Linked DNA regions of Homo sapiens: region 1 is linked to region 2. The links come from fine-mapping of genetic effects on gene expression. Tissue or cell type: T cells. Region 2 holds a variant in brackets; the other region holds the start of a gene. All regions are shown on one strand. Distances are from middle to middle.

Region 1 (8,185 bases), 64 kb before region 2:
GTTTGTTTCATGCAGTGTTGGCTCCTAAAATGGGTATCACCAAGCTGGACTGTGACTAATGCGAGGGATCTGAATCATGCCAAGTGATAGTTCATAGCCGACAGGACTGAGAATGCATCACTTAGAGGATGTCATTGCACAGGCACTCTTTATTTAACATACATTTATTTGTATTGTGCTAGGCACCGGGCTAAGGGCTTTTAATCTTCATAGCAACTGCATGTCCTATTATTTATACATTTTAGAGGTGCACTTTGGCTCAAAAAAGGATGTAGTGACTTTCTCCACGTCACCTAGCTAGGGAGAAGCAGCAGCAGACGTGTGCTTCCTGTCTACACTGTGGCTCTGAAGCTTGCATTCTTAACCACAAAGCAAATCATTATAGAAGAGAAAAAATATATATATATTTTTTTGAGATGGAGTTTCACTCTTGTCGACCAGGCTGGAGTGCAATGGCACAATTTTGGCTCACTGCAACCTCTGCCTCCCAGGTTCAGTGATTCTCCTGCCTCAGCCTCCCGAGGAGCAGGGATTACAGGCATGCACCACCATGAGCCACTAATTTTTGTATTTTTAGTAGAGACGGGGTTTCACCATGTTGGTCAGGCTGGTCTCGAACTCCTGACATCAGGTGATCCACCCGCCTCTGCCTCCCAAATGCTGGGATTACAGGTGTGAGCCACCTCACCCAGCCCCCAACCGACTAATTTTTGTATTTGTAGTAGAGATGGGTTTCGCCATGTTGGCCAAGCTAGTCTTGAACTCCTGACCTCAGGTAATCCACCCGCCTCTGCCTCCCAAAGTGCTGGGATTACAGGCATGAGCCACAGTGCCCAGCCAGAAGAGGAATAATTCTTTAAAATCAGTGCAGAGGGCAAATCTAAAAGAAACTGGAATTTAGGAGACTATAAGGAAGAATTTTCTAATAATTCCAGCTGTTCACCATGAAACATTTCATTAGCAGTTTGCAAGCTGAGGCTTATTGCCCATGGATCAGGAAAATAGTAGAAGGCATTCTCAAATAAGTGGGAGCTCAGAAGTGGTAAATGAGCTCTGTTGGTCTTTCCAATTCAAATTTGTAAAATTTACTCTCTTGAGGACATTTCTTATAGTCAGTTTCTTCTCATATGACTTTTTCTTTTTCCATTCAATTCATAAAGACCTTCTTTTTTGGTATAAAGCCAGAATGCAACTTATTCATGACTGAAATTGGCATAAGCAGGGTGTCCTCAGACTGTAAGCGAGCCTGTATAGGAATCCACATCATGTTTTGCTGAGAAAGAGAGTGGCCTGGATCACGGAAATTCAAAGATGATTGAAAAAGCATTTTCAGCACTTGGAAAACTTTATTTCATTTAATTAGATATTAATGATCAGTGAAAGAACACATAAGGGTAGAAGATAAAAATGTCATTAGATTCCAAGCCCAGTGCCTTCAATAATTGAGTGTGTGCTATTACTCTTTTACTATGGTCCTTAGTATTGTGATGTGCCCCTTAATTATTTCTGATATGCTTTATATGTGCCTTTATTTTCCAGGTGTTAATTAATGTGTTTTTTTTTTAAAGAAACGCATTTTCTGCTTTTAGAGAAAATGTAGTAAATATACTAACATTCCAGTTTTGATATTTGCTTGCTTTTTTAAAAGTATGTCTAGTTTCTCTAATTAAAATATAAATAGTATTGTACATATCATTGAGGATGACTTTATGGGAAATTATGGGACTAGAGAGTTTTTCTTCTCTCTTATGAGCCTTCGGGATTTGCTTTCGGAAAAAGTAATCAATATTTACTTTCATTCTGCTCACCTCACTTTTCTCCTCAGCTACTCCCTATTGTACCACCTCCACCAGCCCTCCCACTCTTCCACCAAATCATGTAATTTGTGCCAGTGATTGGAAGACATTTGCATACATAATCCCAGGGGGCCTAATATCTACAGATGCTTCCATGGAGATAGTTGTAAATTATGATTATGGAGAGAGTTTTCATTCTTGAAATAATTATCACGAGATAAGCCTCAGAGAGGAAATAATACATAAAGATGTGGCACATATGAGGTGACAATTGGGCTAGAATAACTGGAAGGATTGAATGACAAGTACAAGGGTGATCTGTATTTCAGAAGATGAGGGAGACCTAGGAGTTGCAATGTGTCAGGATATTTTAGGCTGGGAGTCTAGAAGGAAGGTTCCACTTGAAGTATAGGTCTTAAAGAAGTCTAGGAGATTTCTAGAGAAGGGAAAGAACAAAAGCAGAGAAGTGAACTGAAGGGCATGTTTGGGGAACACCAAGTAGTTTCATTTACAGCAGAGTTCAAGAAGAGAAAAAAGTTAAGGAAGAAAAGTAAGTTCAGGGCTATACCGTGAAGATCCTTAAGTATCAGAGTAAACAGTTTGTAATCAGCCTGTGTGGGGAAGGGGTTTGAGGCTCCTTCCTCTCAGGAGGTTGGTATTTTTCATTAACTCTGCCATGTGTCTGTACTGTCTCTCCCCTACAGGTAAGGTCTTTTGTCACATTTATTTTGATTTATAGCACGAATGCTGAAAATTCCAGATTTGTTTAATATATTGGTTTTTGGCTATATATAAATCACTGTGACTATATAGTTCCCTTTACATTTTATGTACTGATGTTTATTTCTGGTACTATATGTAATAAATATTTAAAAAGTTTGCTTCATGCATTATACATATGTCAGTGTGTACATGGTTTCTGTAAGCTGAGTTAGTTTAAGAGTACATTTGCTTAAAGCAGGTAACAAGTCTTCTTTCTACATATTTCAAATTCAATAAATAATTAACACGTTGCCAAATCAGGTCTCATTTTTTCTAATTTGAATTCAGCCATGAATTCATTTCTTGGAACTAAAACACCCTCAACAATCCATCTCTTTCTGTTCCCTTCTGCTTTATCTTACAGATGAGGAAACCAGGGTCATCTCAAAGTCACACAATCAGTTAACTGGCAACGCCAGGGCTAAAGCTGAGTTATCTGGTATCTTTCTACCATACACCTCTTCTTATCTGAAAGTGACTAACAAAAAGCAAAGCACGTGGCCAATGCACATGTACAATTTAAAAAGTTAATTTCATAGACCACATCAAAAGGAACCAGTGAATGTTATAATTTGGATGCAGTGGTTATACTTTTATTTGTTAACAGCATTACATTAGCAGGCATGCAACATTTCTAACAAATCAGTTATTGTTATTACAAGTGGTACCCCCAAGTTCCCCCTAACAAAAACCTGTGGCAGTGTTGGGAACAAAGAGAAAAACACTTCACAACGGGAACATTTTCTATCCTCCATATGGGTACATTATTTTTATTTATAATTGACTGTAAACACCGCTCCCCCCACAAAATTTCTAAGCTCCCCCCAACTGACTGATTGAACACCTCCACCAAGCGGATTCCAAAGAAACTTGAAAAACTAGTTCAGGCCATGCTGGGAAAGGGAAGTCAGACATGCCTCATTATACTTTCCTCTCTTTGGAGTTCAGGCACAACTGACCAGTATTATTATTAAAACAAGAGATCTTCATACCGACATAACAGACTCTTCTTAGCAATAAGATACCAAAATTCCAACATGACTCTAGTATAGCATCACATGAAAGATAGCAGGCCCTAAATCAAAGCATTTTACCCTAAAATAAATTTCTTTGACACTTTTTGAAATGGCCCTACACAGCCATCTCTTGTGGGGAAAATCTACATTCTATAGAGACTCCCTTTCCCTTTCCAGGTCTTTTCCTGATCCAAGAGATATTTAACTAAGAGTCTGGCATCTTTTTACACATGATAAGAGACATTTGCCAATTATTCTCTCTGAAGCCTGTTACGTATGAGACTTCGTCTACATAATAAGAACCTTGGTCTCCACCTTATCTTAACCCAGACACATTCCTTTCTATTGATTCCAGGTCTTTAGGTCACAACTTAACTCTTTCAACCAACTGCCAATCAGAAAATCTTTGAATCCACCTGTAACCTGGAATCCTTCCCCTTTTTGAGTTGTCCCATCTTTATGGACCAAACTAAGTACACCTTCCATATACCAGTTAATGTCCTTATGTCTCCCTAAAACCATATAATCCCAAGCTGTAGCCCAACCACCTTGGGTACATGTTGTCAGGACCCTGTGGGGTTGTGTCATGGGTCACGGTCCTCACCTTGTGCTCAGAATAAACCTCTTCAAACATTTTACGGAGTTTGGCTTTTTTCGTCAACATGAGCCTCTAACAGTTGGTTACTGGATCATCCTGAGGAATCAAGGCCATAGCACTTAAAGACCCATAAATAATCCTACATGATATTCACTGTGTATTCTATGTAGGTGTAATTTCCAAGCTAAAACATAATTAACCCCACTAATAGACACAACAAACATCCTCTGTATTATCAGCACGCACACAGGGCTTTCTCTGCTGCGAGTGGACTTGTGTCCTTACTTATAATTCTGGAATCTTCTCTAGGGGAGAGGCTGGTCTAATTTCTCTCTATTGACCCAGGGCAGGCAGGAAACAAGGCACACTGTGGAAAGAATGTTTGAATGTTCAGGCTTCTAAGTGACAGAAAAGCAGCTTGTCTGAAAAATGATTTTTTTCTGGCTTCTAACCAGTGTTAATTCACTTGGAAACCAAGGCAGTTTTCTCCCCTTTACTGAACTCTGGATTTCTTTTCCAATCAAGGCCCCTGACACCAAAGAAGGAAATGGAGCGTAAATCAGGCTACAGAGTGGCTGCCATTCATTCGGGAAGCCTTATTGTTTTCCGTCCTTTGTTCCCCTCTAGACCCTTGCCAATCCCCAGGCCGCGAGGCCCTCTGAAGCCCTGAGCCTGGAGCGGTAGGAGACGGGGGAACTGAAACGCCGCGGAACCAGAGGCTGAGGGAGCGGCGCGATGGAGGGAGGAGGAGCGACGGACCGGCAGGCCTAGCTCCGGGGCTGCGGCGGCTGAGGCGCGGGGATGGAGCCCCTGCGGGTGCTGGAGCTATACAGCGGCGTGGGCGGCATGCACCACGCGCTGAGAGGTGAGAGTCCATCTAGCACCCCTCTCTCTATTCGCTCACGGGGGCTGGTTGGAGCACCCGCGCCGGGAAGGGGCGGAGCGGCGAGACGCAAGGGGCGGACACTGTGGGGCGGACACTGTGGGGCGGCCCTCGGTTGTCCTGGAAACAGCTCCTGCGCGCCGCCGTGTCCACCCCTCCAGACGCTGACTCCCTTCTCCTGGCGCCGAGTCTGGCTCGAGGGGCCGCACATGGCGCCTCAAAGGGCCCAGTTGGGAGTCGGGATTCGCAAGGCAGTAAATCAACCTCAAAGGGTATCAAAGGGGCGAGACCCTCGCCTGGTGCCAAGCCCCCATTCTAAGTGTGCAGCCACCGAGAAGCATGGAGACTCGGTCCTTCATCCTGGGGGGCTTCCCAGCTGGGGAGGGAGGGAGTGTCAGGGGCTCCCCTGGTGAGAGATGGATCTTGGAAGGGATAATAGCTACAATTCAAGGTAGAAGTTTGCGAATGCTAAATAGGATGGTAGAGGAAGCTTGAAGAACTTGGACGTCTGATCGTTGGAAAGAAACGTGTCTTCTGTAGTTCTGCGTTTAGATGCCAGAGAACTGAGTTCCAGCTTGGTGGCAGTGTGACGTTGGGCTACTTCGTGAACAGTGATGAACCTGTTTCCTGGTTTTAAAAGAGAATGATTATTATAAGGATTAAAGTCTGTCAAGTGCTTGTTAGTGCCTGATACATTGTAACCACTCCAAATATTATACATTATTATCACTATTACTTTAAAACGACATCACGAGATATTATCAAGCAAACTATTACTTTTATGCACGTCTTTGATTTTGAGGTTTTTGATTTCTTTCATGCTGAGTTGGAACTGAAAGTTTTACTTTTGGTGATATTCACTCAAAATTATTTATTGAGCTCCTATTCTGTGCCAGATTTTGTGCTAGGAGCTGGGGATACAGAATGACAAACAGGCTTTGAAGGTGCATGTTTATTCTTAAATTACTAAGACAACCACCGAACTGAAACTTCCCTGCTTCCTTATTTAGGACCAAGAGTAACAAGAGTAACTGTAAGATACAGACAATATTTAATGGGTTTAGCGTATAAGTTTTTTGAGCAGATTTATTGAGTTTCAATTCTAGACTAGGTTAATGATCATTAAGTTTTTAGTACTTGTTTGCCGGCTATCTTTATTTCTCATTTTAAAACTTAGCAGCATCAAAGCAAAACTCTAGTACTATTTACTCTTTGTTAATTCTCTAAAGTGATATAATGTCCGCGTTTTCCCATATCTTGAAACTCCTTAATGAATTGCTTAGTACTTTATCATAAGCTGTAATTCAGCCATTCCTTAAGTGTCGAATATTTAGATCATTCTTCAGTTTTTTTGCAAGTACAGTGTGCTACAGTTACATTCTTGAGCATAATGCCGATTTTCTCTTTAAGCATGTTTACTAACTGTTGGAATTAATTCAACAGTAAGACTTAACTGTGTGCTAGTTACTAAGTGAAAAACAGAATTTTTAAGGCTTTTGAGAGAGAGGATAGCAAATTGCTTTTCAGAGATTTTTGAGTGCCTTAACTACATATTCATCAGGGATATGTATTATCAATTTTTAATCCTTGCTAATTTGTTAGGGGAAATTGTGTAATTTTAAGTGACAGTTTTGGGATTAATGAAAGAGTAAAATATTTTCTCTCCTATTAGCCAATGCAATGTGAATTTGTACACGTTTTTCTATTGCCAGTTCTACTGTTGTGAATCCAAGCTATTAAGTTCTGTAATTTAAATTATTAACATAGCTTCCCAGCTTCTCTCCTTACTTCCATTCTGCCTCCCTACTCCGTTTTCCTTCTAGCAGGCAGCATGATCATTTGCACAGTAAACCAGATCATGTTACTTCGTTGCTTAAATGGTTGCTTTTGAGATTGTAATCACAGTCCCATCTTAACAGGCTTGTGAGTTCTGGCTTCTGTCTTCTCTTCAATTTTATCTGCCACTCTCCCTTCAGCATCCCGCTTCACCGTCAACACCCAAAGCTGAAATTCTAATTAAACGATTCCCTGAATTCTTTCCTCAGCCTTTCTTGTCGAGGCTTACTGTTTTTCTTTCTCTCTACTCCTCAAACCCTCGAAGTTCTTCGATGTTCTGGCCTTTGCTTTTGCTGTTGCCTCATCCAGAGTGCTCCCTAACCCCAGACTTTTTCACTCTAGCTTCGGTTCACATTTCATGTCTTAGTTCATATATTGGCCTTCCCTGGCTGACCCTGTGATCCAAAGCAACTTTCCTGCCTCCCTGTACCTCTCTGCTCTCTCATCTTTTCGGTGGAAATCTGCATATTAGGGATATAGACTCTTAATCATATTGATGCAAATATTTTTCCACACTTGTTTGCCTTCCCATGTTCACTTATTTGATGTACTAAAGTTTAAAATTTACCTGTAATAAAATGCATTGCTCCTTTCCAGGTGGTTTTTAATATAATAATAAAGACTAATAACAGCAGCTAACTTTAGTGTTTATTAGGGATCTTTTAAATTCAGGTCCTTTTTTAAGTATGTAATAAACTAGTTAGCGGTAGAACTGGTATTTTAACCTAGGTCTACCTACCTGACCTTTTAACTATGCTATGTTGCCGTTGTTCTGGTTAGAACTACTAACTTCCTTGGATCTATACATTAAATAATATAATAAGCAGCACAAAAGGAATAATATTGAACTTCATTTTTGACTGATTTCTAGATAAGGTTCATAATGGAATTTTTTTATTGTGGTAAAACACAACATGAAATGTATCATTTAAACTATTTTTAAATGTATAGTTCAATGGCATTAAGTACATTCACAATGTTGTGCAACCATCACCCTTGTTCATTTCTAAAACTTTTTAATCATCTCAAACAGAGCTCTGTACCTGTTAAACAATAACTCCAAATTCCCTTTCCCCCCAGTCCCTGGTAACCTTGATTCTGCTTTGTCTTTATGAACTTGTCTACTCTGCGTACCACACATAAGTAGAATAATACATTTGTCCTTTTGTGTCTGGCTTATTTCACTTAGAATAATGTCTTCAAAGTTCATTTATTTTGTAGCCTGTATCAATATCTCAGTTCTTTTTGTGGTTGAATAATATTCCATTGTATAGCTGTACAATTTTGTGTATCC
Region 2 (8,185 bases):
CAAAATAACACTGCAAAGGCTTTAAAAACTAAATTACCACTGGACTCATAGCCCACAAAAACTAAGCCAGGGCTTGCATGCTAAACACAAATGGAGTGACTGCCTACTAAAAATAAAAGATTAAAATAATAGACAAAAGGTTCAGGATACGATGTAAAATAGCCTGTCATACCAAGAACCAGAAAAATCACAACTTGAATAAGAAATGACAGTCAACAGATGACAACACTGAGACAAATCAGATGTTGGAATTACTTGACAAGGATTTTAAGCAACTCTCATAAAAATGCTTCAACAGGTAATTACAAGTTGTCTTGCCACAAAAAATAGAAAAGCTCAGCAAAGAAATAGAAGTTAACAAAAGAACCATTATGGTAGGTGCACTATATGCCAATTTTTAAGAATAGAAATAAATGGCAGTTATGTAACTGAAAAATAACCAAAATAGAAAACATTCTGTGGTAACAGATAATTTGATTAGATCCTGGACATTTTGTCTGTTACATTAACTTTATTTTCAGAAATTTAATTATGATGTGTCTTGGCATGAATTTCTTTCAAAGTGGCAGATATTTCAAAGTGAATGTAATATCCTGTTTGGTGTTCATTCACCTTCTTGAATCTGTACATTTATATCTTTTGCTAAACTTGAGATCAGTAGTAGAGAGGAAATGACAGAAGATAGAAATCAGTGAACCTAAGGACGGATCAGTAGAATTTACCTGATCTAAATGATAGGGCAAAGATAGGCTGACAAAAAAAATTAACAGAGCCTTGGGGACCTGTGGGACAATAACAGAAGAACCAACATTTATATGTTTGGGGTGCCAGAAGTAGAGGGGAAAAAAATGGAGCTGAAAGAGCATTTAAATAATGGCTGGAAACATCCCAAATTTGGCAAAACCTTAAAAGCAGCTGGAGGCTGGGCGCGGTGGCTGACACCTGTAATCCCAGCACTTTAGGAGGCGAAGGGGGGCAGATCATAAGGTCAGGAGATAGAGACCATCCTTTCCAACATGGTGAAACCCCGTCTCTACTAAAATCAAAAAAATTAGCCGGGCATGGTGGTGCATGCCTGTAGTCCCAGCTACTCGGGAGGCTGAGGCAGGGGAATGGCTTGAACCCAGGAGCGGAGACTGCAGTGAGCTGAGATCGTGCCACTGCACTCCAGCCTGGTGACAGAGTGAGACTCCGTCTCAAAAAAATAAATAAATAAATAAAAGCAGCTGGAGAAAAATGACACGTTGCCATGGGGCGGGGGACACAATTTGGATGACAGTAGATGTCTCATCCAAAACCATGAGGACCAGAAGGAGGTGGCATTGTCAACTATGAATTCTATATCTAGCCAAACTATCCTTCAAGAGATCTCTGTTTTATCTATATATGTATCGATACACATATACCTCTATGCAGCTCTTTACAATTATTAGGGCGAGCAGGTAGTTAACATGGAATTAGGCTTATCTGATATGTGAAATAATCAAAGATGAAAGGAAGACACCTAACGTATAGCTAATGATTATAACTGTGAAATTATTCATCTAAAAATAGATTGGAATAAAATAATGATAGCAGTTATGTTAGAGTAATAGCATTTTAATTTTTCTTGTTTATATTTTTCAATTGAATGTGATCTTTTTTGTTGTTTTTGTTTTCATCAATGTGGCATAATATTAGTTTTATCATTTAAAATGTTCTTTCTTTCAAAACACTCAGTTTCAAGTCTTTACTGTAGAGTCTGTTCATTGTAAGCTTGTAAGTTGCTACCTCATTTGCATCTTGATGCTATGTAATATAATCCCCTCCCCTGCTGACTTTTTTCCTCCAGAGCAGAAGCTACATCTTGCCCATTTGTGTATCCTCAGTACCTTTCTCAGATGCTGACAGATAGTGGGTACCTAATAAATAATTGTCCAATTAACTGACTTAGATATGAGTATGCTGAGTATGGTAATAGAATTGTAGGTTCTTTCATGGCTTGGGGGATTGTTTGAATAATTCTGTCAGCCAAAAAGAAAAGAAGTGCTGGGCATGGTGCCTCACACCTGTAATCCCAGCACTTTGGGAGGTCGAAGTGAACGGACCATGAGGTCAGGAGTTCAAGACCAGCCTGGCCATGATAAAACCCTATCTCTACTAAAGGTACAAAAAAAAAAAAAAAATAGCTGGATGTGGTGGCATGTGCCTGTAATCTCAGCTATTCAGGAGGCTGAGGCAGGAGACTCACTGGAACCTGGGAGGCGGAGGTTGCAGTGAGCCGAGGTCGTGCCATTGCATCATTCCAGCCTGGGTGACAGGGCAAGACTCTGTCTCAAAAAAAAAAAAAAAAAAAAAAAAAAGCACACTAGATGTTACTGGAAGAATATTTAATGCCAAAATTGTGTATAACTCCTAGGGTATTGTTTATGTCTCTTCTAAACATAGTCTAGGAATTGTTGACAAAGCTTGATTTAGCAGTACTTCCGTAACAAATATGGTCCAAGTCACTATAAAGAAAGCATACAAAGGTGTTGTTTTTTATAGATCTTAGAATAACGGCATTGAAAAAGACAGAAGTGAGGTCATCTCATCCTTTCTGCCATTGATGACAACACCTTAAATCTTCCCACAGATCTATGTGGCACTTCAATTAACAAATCCCCTGGGAATGATGCCCCTTTGTAAGGCATCAGCCTTGTTAAATCACTCCTCTAACCGTAAATCACATCCGTAATGCAAAGCTTCCTCTCACAAGATAAAGATGCCTGTGTGTACTGCTTCTGCGTCTATCTTCCCAATTAAAGGTACAAGAGGCAGAGTCTGAAGAGTGCCAGGTATCCCCAAACTTTGTTTTCTTTTTCTTTTTTTTCATTTTCCTTCCCAGAAGAGAACCAAACTGTTTTTTTCTTCCCCCCATCGGTGGTGACATCCTCACCTCTCTTGCTCTCCTCCCCTAATAGAACACAAAATATCATCACAAAGATGTACTTTCCCCTTTTCCTAAGATCAGATCCAATATAAGTTGTTTGCAGTTATTTACCACCTACATTTCTTCTGTCATTCATGCTGAAGTCTGAGTGCAATCAGACATTTTCCTTTGATTATCGTATGAATGGTGTCTAAATATTTAACTTCACCGCCTTGTTTGGGGAATTTTAGGGGTCACCAAGTAGAAAACTCATTTTGTCCTTTTTAGGTTGATTTGGAACAGGATGGCAGGAGGGTTCACCTATGGTAAACTCCGCTTCATTGCTTCACACCTTGGAAACCAAGCTTGGATTAATCCAATGGAGCTGCTGAAGTCCCCATTCCGGGAGCTGTTGGAGGTAGAGAAAGCTCTGTTGATTTTTTTACTAGCTTTTGGAGCCTTTAATCCTAGCAATTAGTATCTCCTCTGCTATGGCTGATCCTTATAATGATGCGAGACCCTCCAGTGCATATTTTATGTTTTCTGTAACATTTGCTTGAGTTACAATTAGGAAGCTGTGTGTGCACACGTGTGTATACATGTGCCACGAACACCCCTGTGCTCCTCCTCCAAAGCCCTATTCCCCTATTGCGTTTGTCCCTCTGGATTTGAATTTCGTTATTTTTTTCTCATTGTTTATGAAGGGATTATATTACTTAAAAAAAAAAACTTGAAAAAAGTGGAAAAGTTCTCCAAACTCTCAACAATCTGCTTTCTCAGGAAAAGCTCTGCCAAACCTCAGCAATTTAAATG[T/G]TAATGATTAACTCATAATTCTTTTTCATTCTACTCAAAGATAATTGTAGTCATTGTAATAATGAGCATGGAGAACAAATGTCTGCTTTATGTGCCTTGAGCCAAGACCACACTGCTTTCAAAAAGATCAGTTCATCACAGTAGTAGACTTGGTAATTTCCTACATGGTAATGCACTTCCCATGAAATGAGCAAAAGAATAGTTTTAAATGTACCTTGATTTCCATCATTATTTTATGTAATCCTTCATGGAAAATGAAAGAATTGGAACAATGTTATATTGCCCTGAAATTTTGCAGAAAATCACAAAACTGACATATGTAAATGTATCTTTTAAGCAATGTTACGTCCCTGAAAAAGAGAATGAATTAAGTGTCATGAAGGTTAAAAGATCGTTATATTCACAAATGTTTCCATTAATGACTAAAAACCAGATTAATTCTACAGTGTTCTGTTTTAAACTGATATGAAAATGAAAAGGGACTAAAAAAAGCACAAAAGCCAGATTGAAGCTATAACATGTAATGGGAGCTAGCATTAGGGGTGTGAGAATCTTGCCAATTTGTCCATCCTCCAACGCACCTCTGCATCTCAACCCTCTCCTCATTTTTATGACTCCCACATTGATCCAGTCCTCCAGATAAATTCAGCTGGCCTAGCAGAAATATCACATAAGGATTATTGCACTCAAGATAAAAGAACATCCCCCTATTAAAAAGATTAAATCAACATTCTTTAACCTGCCACTTAAGGCCTTCTGTCGATGTCTCTTCCTTTACCCAGCCACTTTCCTTCAAGGTCACCCTGCTGGACAAGTGGAACAACCTTTTTTTTTTTTTCTTTTTTTTTTGGCAGAGTTTCGCTCTGTCACCCAGGCTGGAGTGCAGTGGCTCTCGGCTTGCTGCAACCTCCACCTCCTGGGTTCAAGCGATTCTCCTGCCTCAGCCTCGCCTCCTGAGTAGCTGGGACTACAGGTGTGTGCCACCATGCCCGGCTAATTTTTTTGTATTTTTAGTAGAGACAGGGTTTCACCATTTTGGCTGGTCTCAAATTCCTGACCTCAAATGATCAGCCCGCCTTGGCCTCCCAAAGTGCTGGGATTACAGGTACGAGGCACTGAGCCCGGCCAGTGGAACCACTTTCTATAGTGTGCCCATACTGGGCCTTGGACATCTTTCCTAGTTTGGTACCTGCTGTTTACTTAACAGCATGCTACTGTGTATCTGTGCCATCTTGTCACACTTGTCTTTGTAATGTTGCCTAACTCTGGCTCTCCAGATTTGTACATTACGACTTTATTGTAAATCAGAGAAGGTCAATAAATTTACTTCTTTCAAATTTCCCCCATGGTCAAGGACTTCGTATGTCTTCACTAAATGCTTATTAAGCCTCTAAAACAATGGAATTTAGATAAAGCTGGTAGGAATAAAAAGTGAACATTGGTATAAAAAACAGCAGTGAAATATACTAATGTGGCAATGAGATGCTCTTCAAGAATTTGGAGAAAAATACAGAAAATAAGAGGGTAAGTAAAGTCTGTACACTTAGTATAAAATCTCCAGTCACCTCTACTAGTCCAGGTAGAAGACTGGAGAATTTTTTTCTGAACGTCTCCAGGGCAAGATGCCTTCAAAGATGGGCATTTGGGGTTCCCCAGTGAAATTGTCAGTTTGCCATTCGGTTGCTCTGTGGCAAAGCCTACCAGTTATAATCGCCACCCATGCACACAGAGCCTACCATCCATTCTGTAATGTGTTATTTTTAAATGTCAATGAACATATAAGGATCCATAGGTATTTGAGGAAAGCCTCTAGCATGAATTAGAAAGACCTAAACCAGCAAACAAATGGGAGAAAAACAACTTAGAGAAAACAGAGCCCATACAGGAAACAAGAAAACATCAAAAAGCAACTATCTAAAAATTACTAGATGATGTTACAACTACGAAACAAGAGCAAAAATCAAAAAAGGGGTTTTCAAATTTAAAATGATAGCAACATTTTAAAACAAATTACTAGAAAATTAAAAGATAAATACTTTCTCAGAAAGTATAACAAAACAAGACAAAGAGGTGGAAAATAGAAAATTATTTAAAAATTGGAGAATCAATCTAAGAAAAATGTAGAAATGGAAATGCAGACGCAATGGCAGGGACCACTTGACTCTCGTCATGAGTGAAGGTGTCTTTGTGCTCCTAGGTCACTTTAATGAGTGTACAGATAATTGGCAGGGAGGAGGATCTTTGTAAAATGAAGATTCTAATTCAGCAGGTTGGCAGTAGCACCTGAGATTTTGCATTTCTGACACGCTCCTGAGTGACGCCTGTGCTGGGTCTGTGGACCACACTTGGAGTAGCAAGGTTCTAGTCTACGCCATCTCTACATCTTCCCCACTCCCATCTTAGATGGTTAAACCACTTGCAGAGAGTGAGGCCTGTGAAGCAGCAGAGTGGTTGATATTCCTTAGAGCTCTATGTATCCAAATCTGAACTATCTTTCCTCCAAAATCTTCTTCCCCTGATTATTCTCTTACTCAATTAATGACATCTCTTTCCTTCCAATTCCAATTTTCCAAGCAAGAAACCTCTGTTCTTTTTTTTTTTTTTTTTTTTTTGAGACAGAGTCTCCCTCTGTTGCCCAGGCTGGAGTGCAGTAGTGCATAGTGCAATCATGGTTCACTGCAGCTTCCGCCTCCCAGGTTCAAGTGATTCTCCTGCCTCAGCCTCCTGAGTAGCTGGGACTACAGGTGCCCGCCACCACGCCTAGCTAATTTTTGTATTTTTAGTAGAGACAGGGTTTCACCATGTTGGCCAGGCTGATCTTGAACTCCCGACCTCAAGTGATCTGCCTGCCTCGGCCTCCCAAAGTGTCAGGATTACAGACATGAGCCACTGCACCCGGCCAACTTCCCCCTCTAATAGTTCTAATGAAATATTAACTACCCAAGTATTTCTGTAGCCTGTTTTCTGAATATCTTTCTCACTGTCTCCTCATCTGACTGTCCATTGCCTTAAGGCTCCCCAGGTCACATCTCTTTAAGTGTACTCTAGGCGGGCCGATCATGAGGTCAGGAGTTCGAAACCACCCTGGCCAACATGGTGAAACCCCGTCTCTAATAATAATACAAAAATTAGCCGGGTGTGGTGGTGTGTGCCTGCAATCCCAGCTACTCAGGAGGTGGAGGCAGGAGAATTGCCTGAACCCAGGAGGCAGAGGTTGCAGTAAGCCGAGATCACGCCACTGCACTCCAGCCTGGGTGACAGAGTGAGACTCCATCTGCGGGGGGAAACATGTACTCTAACCTCCTTACCAACTCTGGGTCTCAGACATGGCTCCACAGGGTTGCTTGTAAAATGCAAACATGACCATGTTAATCTCTTCCCTAAGAGACTCTCATAATTCTGCAGTATTAAAAGTAAATAAAATCTAAGCTCATTAAAATGATATTTCAAAGTCCTTCTTGATTTGGCTTCCTGTTCATTTTTAAAACTTCATCTCCCACATATAGACACTGCTGTAGCCCTGCTGAGCTACTTTCTACTGAAAAGCTTTGTATACACCATTACTCTGCCTGAAACTCCTCACTCTACTATTCTACCTGGGAACTACTCAGATGGACTCCTGGGAAGCCTGCATTCCCCTTCCAGGCAGAGTTAATTCTCTCCTCCATTGTTCTCCAATAAAGGTCTCTCTCTCTCTCTCTCTCTCTCTCTCTCCCTCCCCCTCCCCCAACCTCTGTTTTTGTCCTTAGCCATATTCTGATTACCATGACCCCTTCTTAACCTTAAATTCCCCTCATATGAAATTCTAGTATACTGGGATTAACTTTCATGTATGTTTTTGATGACCACAGGAATTTTTATTTGTGAAGTCTGTGGGAATTATTTAAAGGAGGAGCAAAGAACTGAGCATTCAGAATATAAAGGGAGGAGAAGTGAATGTCACAGAAGGAGAAAAGGTTGCACAGAGATATCTTGAAAAACATAAAAAACAGGAGAAAGGAGTAGTTCATTCTGATTCTTACAACCACCTTCAGGTGGTTTTGGAAGGAGGGAGGGAGGGAGAGAAGGGAGCTAAGACTTCAGTGAGAAAGGCTGTGGAGCCAGGATGAGGAAGAAAGAGAAAGGTGAGACCATGCGACAGGACCGGAGCAGAAGTCAGCAGGTCATGAATTATGGATGAGCAGTACACTGAACATTTGGATACCACCCTCATTCCATGTACCATGTATGGTATCAGCAACAATGCAAAATACATTTGCATGTGTCTTGCTGAAGAAGTCAAAGAGAGTAAAGGCTGATGAGTGGAAATCAACAGTACAGCAGACACCATTATAAACTTAAAGTCTACAACATGCCATTAATGTTATCAGTGTTCTGACCTAAGGGTTTTATTTATTTTTTATTATTTTATTTTATTTTTATTTTTTGAGACAGAGTCTCACTCTGTCACCCAGGCTGGAGGGCAGTGGCATGATCTCAGCT

Evidence for each region. PIP is the estimated chance that this variant, and not a neighbour inherited with it, causes the effect.
Region 1: it holds the start of TRDMT1, and the variant in region 2 is fine-mapped to the expression of TRDMT1 in T cells (TOPMed, PIP above 0.99). The same link has a PIP of 0.9 or more in testis.

What each region holds. Positions count from the first base shown.
Region 1 is chr10:17,198,423-17,206,607 of GRCh38, reverse strand. It overlaps TRDMT1 (tRNA aspartic acid methyltransferase 1), which reads left to right and starts at 4,936. Exons shown (of 11, transcript NM_004412.7): 1 at 4,936-5,037. The coding sequence starts at 4,974. RefSeq lists a silencer at 5,239-5,298.
Region 2 is chr10:17,134,195-17,142,379 of GRCh38, reverse strand. TRDMT1 (tRNA aspartic acid methyltransferase 1) reads left to right here. Exons shown (of 11, transcript NM_004412.7): 11 at 1-5,044. Among named protein-coding and RNA genes, the nearest start is that of CUBN, 8.5 kb to the right of the region's middle. The variant T/G (reference allele first, on the strand shown) is at 3,704.